Regions from separate parts of the Homo sapiens genome. Here region 1 is linked to region 2. Evidence: fine-mapped expression QTL. A gene starts in region 2. The other region holds a variant in brackets. All regions are shown on one strand. Distances are between the middles of the regions. Region 1 has its middle 130 kb from the start of LINC01773. Region 2 holds the start of LINC01140 (long intergenic non-protein coding RNA 1140).

Region 1 (4,394 bases), 910 kb before region 2:
CCCCTCTCTAGGTAAACTCTGAGCCACTACTAGTGGGTATGCTCAGCTGTGGGTGGGGCAGCTAATCTGCACTCCTGAGCTGGTGGCCCTGCCTGGTGAAGAGTTACGGGTGAAGGCTCACAGGGAAGAGAGACTGGGCTCCTCTCCATGTGGTTGCTTCTGTGTGCTGGAGATGCCAGTGTAGCGACTAGGTCCTTGATTCCTTCCCCAGAATGAGGAGAGTTAGGGTGGTACCACTGCAGCTGCAATGGCGAGGGGCTGTGAATTGTCTCTAGGATTTGCTCCTCAGAGAATTGCAGAGCTGCCTCTGACTGAAGTGTTCAGGCAGGGGCAGGGTTGTTGTGCTGGAGTCTCCGGTCAGGAGGCCCCACCCAGTAAGGAGAAGTCGGGATGGGGACCCACGTGGAGAACAGCCCAGCCACTATTCCACAGGGCAGCTGCACTGTGCCAGGGATCCACGCCAGTCCCTAATCACCGCACAACCTCCGGGGCCTGAGGGCTGCCAGACGGCAAATATGGTGGCCTGCCCCTCCCTCTGGGAGTGCTGCCCCAGGGAAGTACAGAACTGCCACCCAAGAGCCCCCACAAGGGGTGGCTGGGATCCCAGCTTGGGAGGTCCCGCCAGTGAGAAGCAGAATTGAGGACCTGCATAAAAAATAGTCTGGTTGCTTTTCTGTGGAGCAGCTGCACTGTACTGGGGCCCTGCACCATCCTCTAATCATTGCACACTCTCCAGAGCCTGAAGGCAACAGCAGCTAAGGCTGTGAAGTAGCAAAAATGGTGGCCTGCCCCTCCCTCTGGGAGCTCTGACCCACGGAAATGTAGAGCAGCTACCAGTGGAGGGCGGTTAGAGTCTCAGGTTGGGACGTCCTGCCCAGTGAGAAGAAGCGGGATTGAGGACCCACATGAAAAACAGTCTGGCTGCTTTTCTGTGAGGTGGCTGCACTGTGCTGGGGGTCTGCTCCAGTCCCAGGTCACCAGGCACTCTCCAGAGCCTGACGGCAACAGCGGCAAGGGCTGCCAGATAGCAAAGATGGCAGCCTGCCTCACCTGCTGCGCACTCTGTCCAAGAGAAGTGCAGAGCTGCTATGGGCCTGAGAGCCCCAGCTGGGGGTGCCTGTCGTCCTAGGCCAGTGAGCTTTATTTTGTGAGGTTCAGTGGAGGCAAAGGCCTGCAGTCCATCACTGCTCAGCCCCCTGGATTTGCCCTTTTCGTGGGGGCATGCAAGGGAGCCCGACTTACCCCATTGCTGGAGCTGGAGCTGCTAAGGCTGGGATGCCCAGGGATCCAATGCTCTGGGGACTCCACATGTGCCTTAGTGGCAGCTCTGCCCAGGCACTGATATAGGCAGAAGACAGCCAAATGCCTAGGCAGATAGGGAAAGGTCCCTGTAGAATCTCCAACCCACCCTACAAGTCTTTACACCAGATGCTTTGTGCAGATGGGGAACCCGCACAGGCAGCTTGTCTGGGCATGCCCCTCGAGCACTGCCGGGAATGGGGTGGAGCCACCAGGAATTCGCGCCTTTGGCCAGGGAGGAGCCTGGCCTCCTCAACTCCCGTGTAGTGGCCTGACATTCAATTCTGTGAGATGGAAGCTTGGGTGCAGGACCCCTCTCTTTGTTGAGAGCTTTCCTTTTGCTTAATAAATTCCGCTCTCCTCACTCTTCAATGTGTCCTTGAGACAAGAACCCGGATTTAGCTGAACTAAGGAGCAAAAAATCCTGCATAAGCACCACATAGGTCTTCATATCAGTCTGAAGGCCCTGGTGGGATGAGTTCATGAGGGGATCTCTTGAGCCCAGGGTTGCAAAGGTCTGTGTCAGAAATAGGAGTCGCCAGGGATGCTCACTCACTCACTGATTCCCTGCTGTGGTGGAGCCTCCCCTGGTTCTGTGCCACTCCCCATGGGCAGTTGTCCAGTCTCGCTCCTCTCCATTCTCCACCGGTAGAGCTGATTCCTTGATTAATCCCAAGGTGTCCATCTGCATATTTAAGTTGAAAATCTAGTATTTA[C/T]GCCTCTCTTTTTCTTTTCTGTGTCAGAGCGGCACATGATAGCTGCTTCTAGTCAACCAACTTGAAGCCCTAACCGAGTACTGATATTTTCATTGTAACAGGCAATTAAACTGATTGTACTGAAATTACAAATGCTGTTCCTTGGGCAGCAGCTCAAATACCAGTTAAGAGTTCCTTTTCTTTTTAGTTTTGTTTGTTTATTTGTTTTAACCCTTATGTGTGCTGCTTTGTGTTTGTCTCAGGTACATGTGGTTCAGGACTCAGCAGGAAATTTAAGCTGAGTCTATCACAGAACTTGGTACCTCTCCAGCTTGAAGTATCTCTCATTTCTAATATTTCTCCCTTACTCTTCAACAGCTATGGTTTTCCTGAACTTAATCCTCTGGATCTTCAGAGCAGAGAAAGTGTGAGTTTCCTTTATTCAACTTCAGCTTTTCCTCAGGCTAAAATTCCTAAAACAGAAAATTCAATGCATGTAAGACGCGTTTTCCAAGTTTATGGTCCACTCCACCATCTGTCTTGTTTTGTTCACGTTTTTTGAAGTTGTTTGTTTTTGTAATTATCTAGAGTTGTGGTTGATGTATTTAAGAATGTCAGACTAGTAGGAGCTTGATCAGCCTTTTAGGAACCAGAACTCACTTCAAGCTATCTTGAGCTTATATGCCATCAATCTTAAAATATGATGAGCTGAGCATGTCCTTAAAGTCCCAACTGCTTGGGAGGCTGAGGCAGGAGAATTGCTTGAGTCAGGAATTTGAGGCTTGTACAGTGTGCTATGATCATGCCTGTGAATAGCCACTGTACTCTAGCCTGGGCCACGTAGTGAGACCCCTATCTCTTAAAAAATAAAATGATAGCATGCAATTCAATAATTTTTAGACAGTTTTATTTAGATAAAATCCACATACCATAACATTCATCCTTTTAAAGAATACAATTCATGTTTTTTACTATATTCACAGTTACACAGTAATCACCATTATCTAGTTTTAGTACATTTTCATCACCCTACACAGAAACTCTGTGACTATTAGCAGTCATTCCCCATTCACCCTCCTTGCAGCCGCTAGAAATCACTAAACTGCTTTCTGACTATATGGATTTTCCTATCCTGAATACGTCATAGAAATGGAATCATAGAATATATGCTTTTTTGACTGGCTTCTTTCCCTTAACGTAATGTTTTCAATGTTCATCTATGTTGTGCATGTATTAGTAATTCATTCACTTTTATTGCCAGATAACGTTCCATTGTACAGATATGCCACATTTTACCTATACAACAGTGGATGGACATTTGGGTTGTTTCCAGTGTTTTGCTATTATGAATACTATGAACATCCCAGTACAAATATTTATATGTACATATATTTTCATTTCTCTTGGAATATAATTATGTGGGGGGATGACTAGGTCATATGTTAAATCTTTGCTTAACTTTTGTAGGAACTGTCAAACATTCCAAAGAGGCTTCAGTATTTTACATTCTTAACAATGTATTACGGCTTCAGTTTCTTCACATTTTTGGCAACACTTCTTATTATTTGTCTTTTTTATTTTTGTTATCCACTATAGTGAGTGTGAAGTGTGTCACATTGTGGTTTTAACTTATATTTCTCTGTTGACTAGAAATGTTAACCATCTTTTTATGTGCTTGTTGACCATTAATGTATTTTCTTTGGAGAAATGTCTATTCTAATCTTTTGCCCATTTTAAAAAATTGGAGTATTTTTTATTTTTATTGTTGAGTTATAAGAGTGCTTTGTATGTCTTGAACAGAAGTTCTTAGGAGATAAATGATTTGCAAATATTTTCCCCCATTCCATGGGCTGTCTTTTCACTTTATTAATGGTGTCTTTTGAAAATGCAAGTTTTTACATTTTAATGATGTCCAATTTATCTATTTTTTTTTCTTTTCATAGTTGTACTTTTGGTGTCATATTTAAGAAGCCATTACCTAATCCAAGGTCAATGAATAATTATCATTATTGTTTTCTTCTAAGAGTTTTATAGTTTTAGCTCTTATATTGTAGACTATGATCCATTTCGAATTAATTTCTGAATGGAATGTGAGATAGGGGTTCATTTCCATTTTATTTTACATGAAAATATCCAGTAGTCTCAGTGCCAATTTTTGAAAAGATTTCTTTTCCCCTATTGAATTGACTTGAAACCCTTGTGAAAAATCAATTTACCATAAATATAAGAGTTTACTTCTGAACTTCCAGTTCTATTCTGTTGTTTTATCTATGTCTACTTAGGCCAATACCACGCTGTCTTGATTACTATAGATTTCTGGTAAGTTTTGAAACTGAGAAGTGTAAGTCCTCCAACCTTGTTCTTTATTTCAATATCATTTAAGTTATTCTGGGTCCCTTG
Region 2 (4,394 bases):
CTCTCTCTTCCTGCTGCAACCAAAGCTAAAAAGAAAATTTGCCAGAATGAATGGAATAACTGACGGTCCCCTTCAATGAGACGTCCATGAGGTGATGTCTGGTTTTTCCTAAATACAATGGCCAGTCGATTATTAGTTCATCCAGAAAAAATATAGATGCTGTCATCGTATAAACATGAGTCTCCACATAGAACTGAGCCTCAGACCCGCTGGAGGTGCTCTGTCTGGGAAACACTGAACTAGAATTTTGGGTGGAACGAAGTAGAAGCTTTACTTTTTATTTAACAGTAGCCTGAAGACCTCCTGCAGAATAATGGAAAGGATAAAGACCTGGGAGCCAGGATACTAAGGTTCTGGCATTAGCTCTGCCCCCCAGTTGTCTGTTTGACCTCGACCAGAGGGAAACAGTTTTACTACCTCTCACAATACTGTGCAGTCTGGATTGGTATCTCCATGTAATCAATAAGGAAATAGGGGCTCCAGGAGTTTACCCAAGGCCGGGCAGCAGATCAGTGGCCAGACCAAGCTTCAGCTGCACGTCTGCCCGACTCTGAAGAGCACGTTGCCTTCACAAGCCATCAAATCCCTTCGTGCTTTGGCCTCTTCATCTACCGCTTGAAGGGTCTGTACCAAGTGGTCATGGTTCCTTCCAGATACAGCAAACCGTGATTCTAAGGTTTCACTGATCCCTTAAAATCCAGTTTTAGTGCTCACAAACCCCATGGTGATAACAAAAGAGCCTTTAAAAAGGATTTATCCACCTATAAAAACCATTAGATTTTATTTGGGGCTGTGGGCAAAGAACACCAAAGCAAACGTGTTGGAACATCAAACCTCCTTTAAAATTTAGGGCAGCAGGGACAGAGGAGAAAATCTGCACAGGGCAAGGAGGGACAACTTACAGATTCCATGGCTGGAACCAGACTGCGGGACACTATTTATCTGCCATTGGCTTCCTGGGGGATAATTGCCTCCTGACAATTGTTTAGACTTGATAAATACATGAAATGGGACCGCCAACAGTTTATCTGGCTACCAGTTCAGATCCGGACAGAACCAGATGAAGAAGTCAGGCATATTTGCAATAACCTCAAAGATAAAACCTTCCTATCAGAGGCAGCTTATCTCCTCCTCTGGGTCATGCTGCCTAGTAACTGCCACCTCCAAAAGAAGGAAGGGGAGAGCACTTCTAGCAGGGGGTTCACAGTGGGCCTTGCTTGCCTTGAACTCCCCTTCCTGCCCACACGACAGGCCACCTGTCTGGCAGCAAGGGAGTGGTACTGTGCCCTGATCTGGAAGGCTTAGGAAAGATGTTGGCAAGGAAAGTGGAAGTAATGAGCAACTAGATCCCAAAGCCAAGGTCACCTAACTCTGAGATGAATGCGTTCCTTGTGGGCTCTTCCTCTGTTTCACATGGACAAGCTAAAGGAACTTCAGGCCTCCCCAGCAAAGATAACACCATGAATCGCAGCTCACAGGAGCTGGGACCCTGCTGGGCTACATACTCACCCCATGACCAAAGGCAAGTGGGACCTCTGGGCCTCAGTTTCCTCACCTCTCAGGGGTTTGAGCTAAATAATCCCTAAGATCCTACTGAGCCATTTTATGGACTGGAATCAAACCAGCCAGACCTCTTTATGGTTTAAAAGAGGCCAGAGGTTTCATCGAAGAACCATCTCCCTCCCTTACATTTTTCCTCAGCCCGCTTGCTTTTCTCTTCTCCCTCCCCGACACCTCTCATTTGCCGGCCACAAACCTCCATCCTCCAACTCCTTTCCAACGTCAGTAGCTGGCTCCACCAGGCTGGCTAAGGAGCGAGGAGACCATCACCTCAGAAAGCAGCCCCGCTGGGAGGTCCACGGAGCAGTTCGCCGAGCTGTGCACAGGCCCTTTATTTTCCATCTGTCAAGAAAGGAAGCTGCCTGTTGCTTATTTCCTCCTCCCACTCTTCTCCCTTCCCGCCAGCAGACTCTTCCACTTTCAAAATATTCTGATGGGGGATCACAGGAGTTTTCCTCAAACAAGATCACTTGGGGTCAACTACTGAGCAACTCCCAGCCTCAGCCCCACCCATTCCCTCACCCTCCAGCTTGAGCAATAGCTCCAGTTAGTAAAGCAGTTGGATCAACAGGACAACAACCAAAAGTGACCTTCTACGTCCTAAAGCCCTTGCCTGACACCACCTCTTTTTTTTTTTAAATTATTCAGGGGCCTTTTGGGGACCCCCAGTTGAGCTGTATTCTGCAGAAAGAACTTCCAAACGAAAGGAATAAGGCATTGTTTTACCAAGAGCCTTTTCTCCCTCAAGAAACACAATGTAAACTAGGAAACTTGCACTTTCTTTTACCTTTGGGTAGATGAGCAGAAGGGAAGAGTTACTACCCAGGGTGAGGTCATTCCTCCATGGTGGTAGAATATCTGGTTCTTTCAGTTTCCCCATGGTGCTGGCCTCACAATAGGTGTTCATGAGGTGCAGGCTAATTGGGTGAGTGGATGCAGTGCTCTGATGGATTTATTCAGTGTACAAGATTGCAAAGCCATGTGCCAGCAAAGGCTTAACCACCCCACCCTACCCTTCAGACCAGCCCCATAGCTTTCCATGTCCCTGTCTGCCCAGCCTCAGGCCAAAGCAAAGGCAGGGATCTGAGCTGTACCCACTGTGAATGCCCATCTCCTGACCCCTGTGCTAGTGTCTTGTCCCTGCATGCCTCGGCTGTCTTCTCTCTGGACTATGATTCATGGCAGATATTAAAAAGGAAACAGCATCCTTCAATTCTTTCTACCATTTCTCTTATCTTTAAAGGGTTCTTATTAAGCAGTATCTTCAAACTTATTTATGTGATGTCATGCTAGGAAGCAGCGTTGTCAATGTGCCACTTTCCATGAGCACTGAATTCAGTAAAAATAAAAGCCAAATAAATGATATATTGTCTCCATGCAGAATCTTCTCTAGTCATGACTAGCTATCCAGATAGTAGGGAATCCCTAAAGATAATCAGATAATGGTGACTTTTGCTTACTGAGGCAAGCTCCCCTTTCCTCTGCGCTTCTGGAGTGATTGATCCAGAGAGGCCAGCTTCTTGCTGGGGCACAGCTGCAATCCGCTGTAAGAAGCCAGCCCAGAAGCGGGGACACAAAATCATGGGGAGCCGACCATGGCCAAAGCATCATGCTATTACCCTTCACTTCACATTTTTTAGCTCTTTTTTGAATGTTATGAAAGATACACAGATGTATATATTTTATGTTTTCATATTAAAATGTTTTCATATTAAAAATCAAAGGGCAGGAGGAAGTGAGGAAGGGGAAGAAAGTAGCATTCAAACGCCAAGCATCATGCTGGGAACTTGGAGTTCTCAAGCCCTCCAGTCTTGGTCACTGGGGAAGGGAATGGGTATCACCCGCTTAGTTCATATTTGAATAACTGCTCATACTTGAAAATGTCTTCAACTGCAACAACATGAAGTGGGGAGCCCCCACAGGATCTCCACGTCTTCCCTGAGAGCTCTTGGACCATGCTCCTTCATCCTCCATGATTTTGATCTTGCAGTTCTGTTTACCTTCAGTGCCTTCTCACTCTTTACACCCTCATCCCAACCCCTTCCACTTTTCAAGACTCATTTAGACATCATCCCCAAGAAAGCTTCTGATTCCCCACTGTCCAGTCCCATCTGGGTGGGTACCCATAGAGATGTCCTGTACACCTTGTCCCCACGTGTTAGAATACTCTGTATATCTGTCTGCTTCCTCAAGGTACTGTGAGCTCTTTGAATGAGAGTCTTGTTCAGGTTTGCATCCCCAGTATCTACTGGTTCAGTTCTAGGCTACCACTTGCCCAAACAACACCTCTGTGTTCTAAGAAAAAGAAGAATGCAGCCCCATCCCTCCCACTCACGCCATACGCACACTGTCAGCCTCCAAGCAAGGCCATGTGACTCCCTTGTTCAAGTCAGAAAAAGGTTCTCCCTCCTCATAGTGGGTGCAGCTCTACAGCAAGGAGCAAGGCGTGGTGAGTAGGAGATGAGCTGGATGTCAGCACCCACTGGGCCCAGGCTCCAGGTAACCTGCACAACTGTATTGGTTGGCTCTGGTTGGATCAATCACTCCATCCAGAGAGCAGTGACCCACTTCTCCTGACCTCTGGCTCAGCTTCCAAGACACCAGGCTGCTTTTCTGCTCTACTACCAGCTACTCCCTCTAACTACAGCTGCTCCATGAGGTAGATAAGCCCCTGTGTCTCTAATGGCACAGTGCCCCATGCAACCCAAACACAGACCCCCAGGAGAGAGAAGCCAGGGAGGTCCTGTTTCTTCCAGGCCCATTGCCAGCCTCTGTCCGGGTCTGGGCACATGGGCTCATTTACATGGCTGGTTTGGAGCCTTTGGCAGATGAAA

Evidence for each region.
Region 1: its variant is fine-mapped to the expression of LINC01140 in spinal cord (GTEx, PIP 0.99).

What each region holds. Positions count from the first base shown.
Region 1 is chr1:88,032,878-88,037,271 of GRCh38, reverse strand. No RefSeq gene overlaps it. Among named protein-coding and RNA genes, the nearest start is that of LINC01773, 130 kb to the right of the region's middle. RefSeq lists enhancers at 1,253-1,954, 987-2,186. The variant C/T (reference allele first, on the strand shown) is at 2,016.
Region 2 is chr1:87,127,357-87,131,750 of GRCh38, reverse strand. It overlaps LINC01140 (long intergenic non-protein coding RNA 1140), which reads right to left and starts at 1,986. Exons shown (of 3, transcript NR_026989.1): 1 at 1,757-1,986.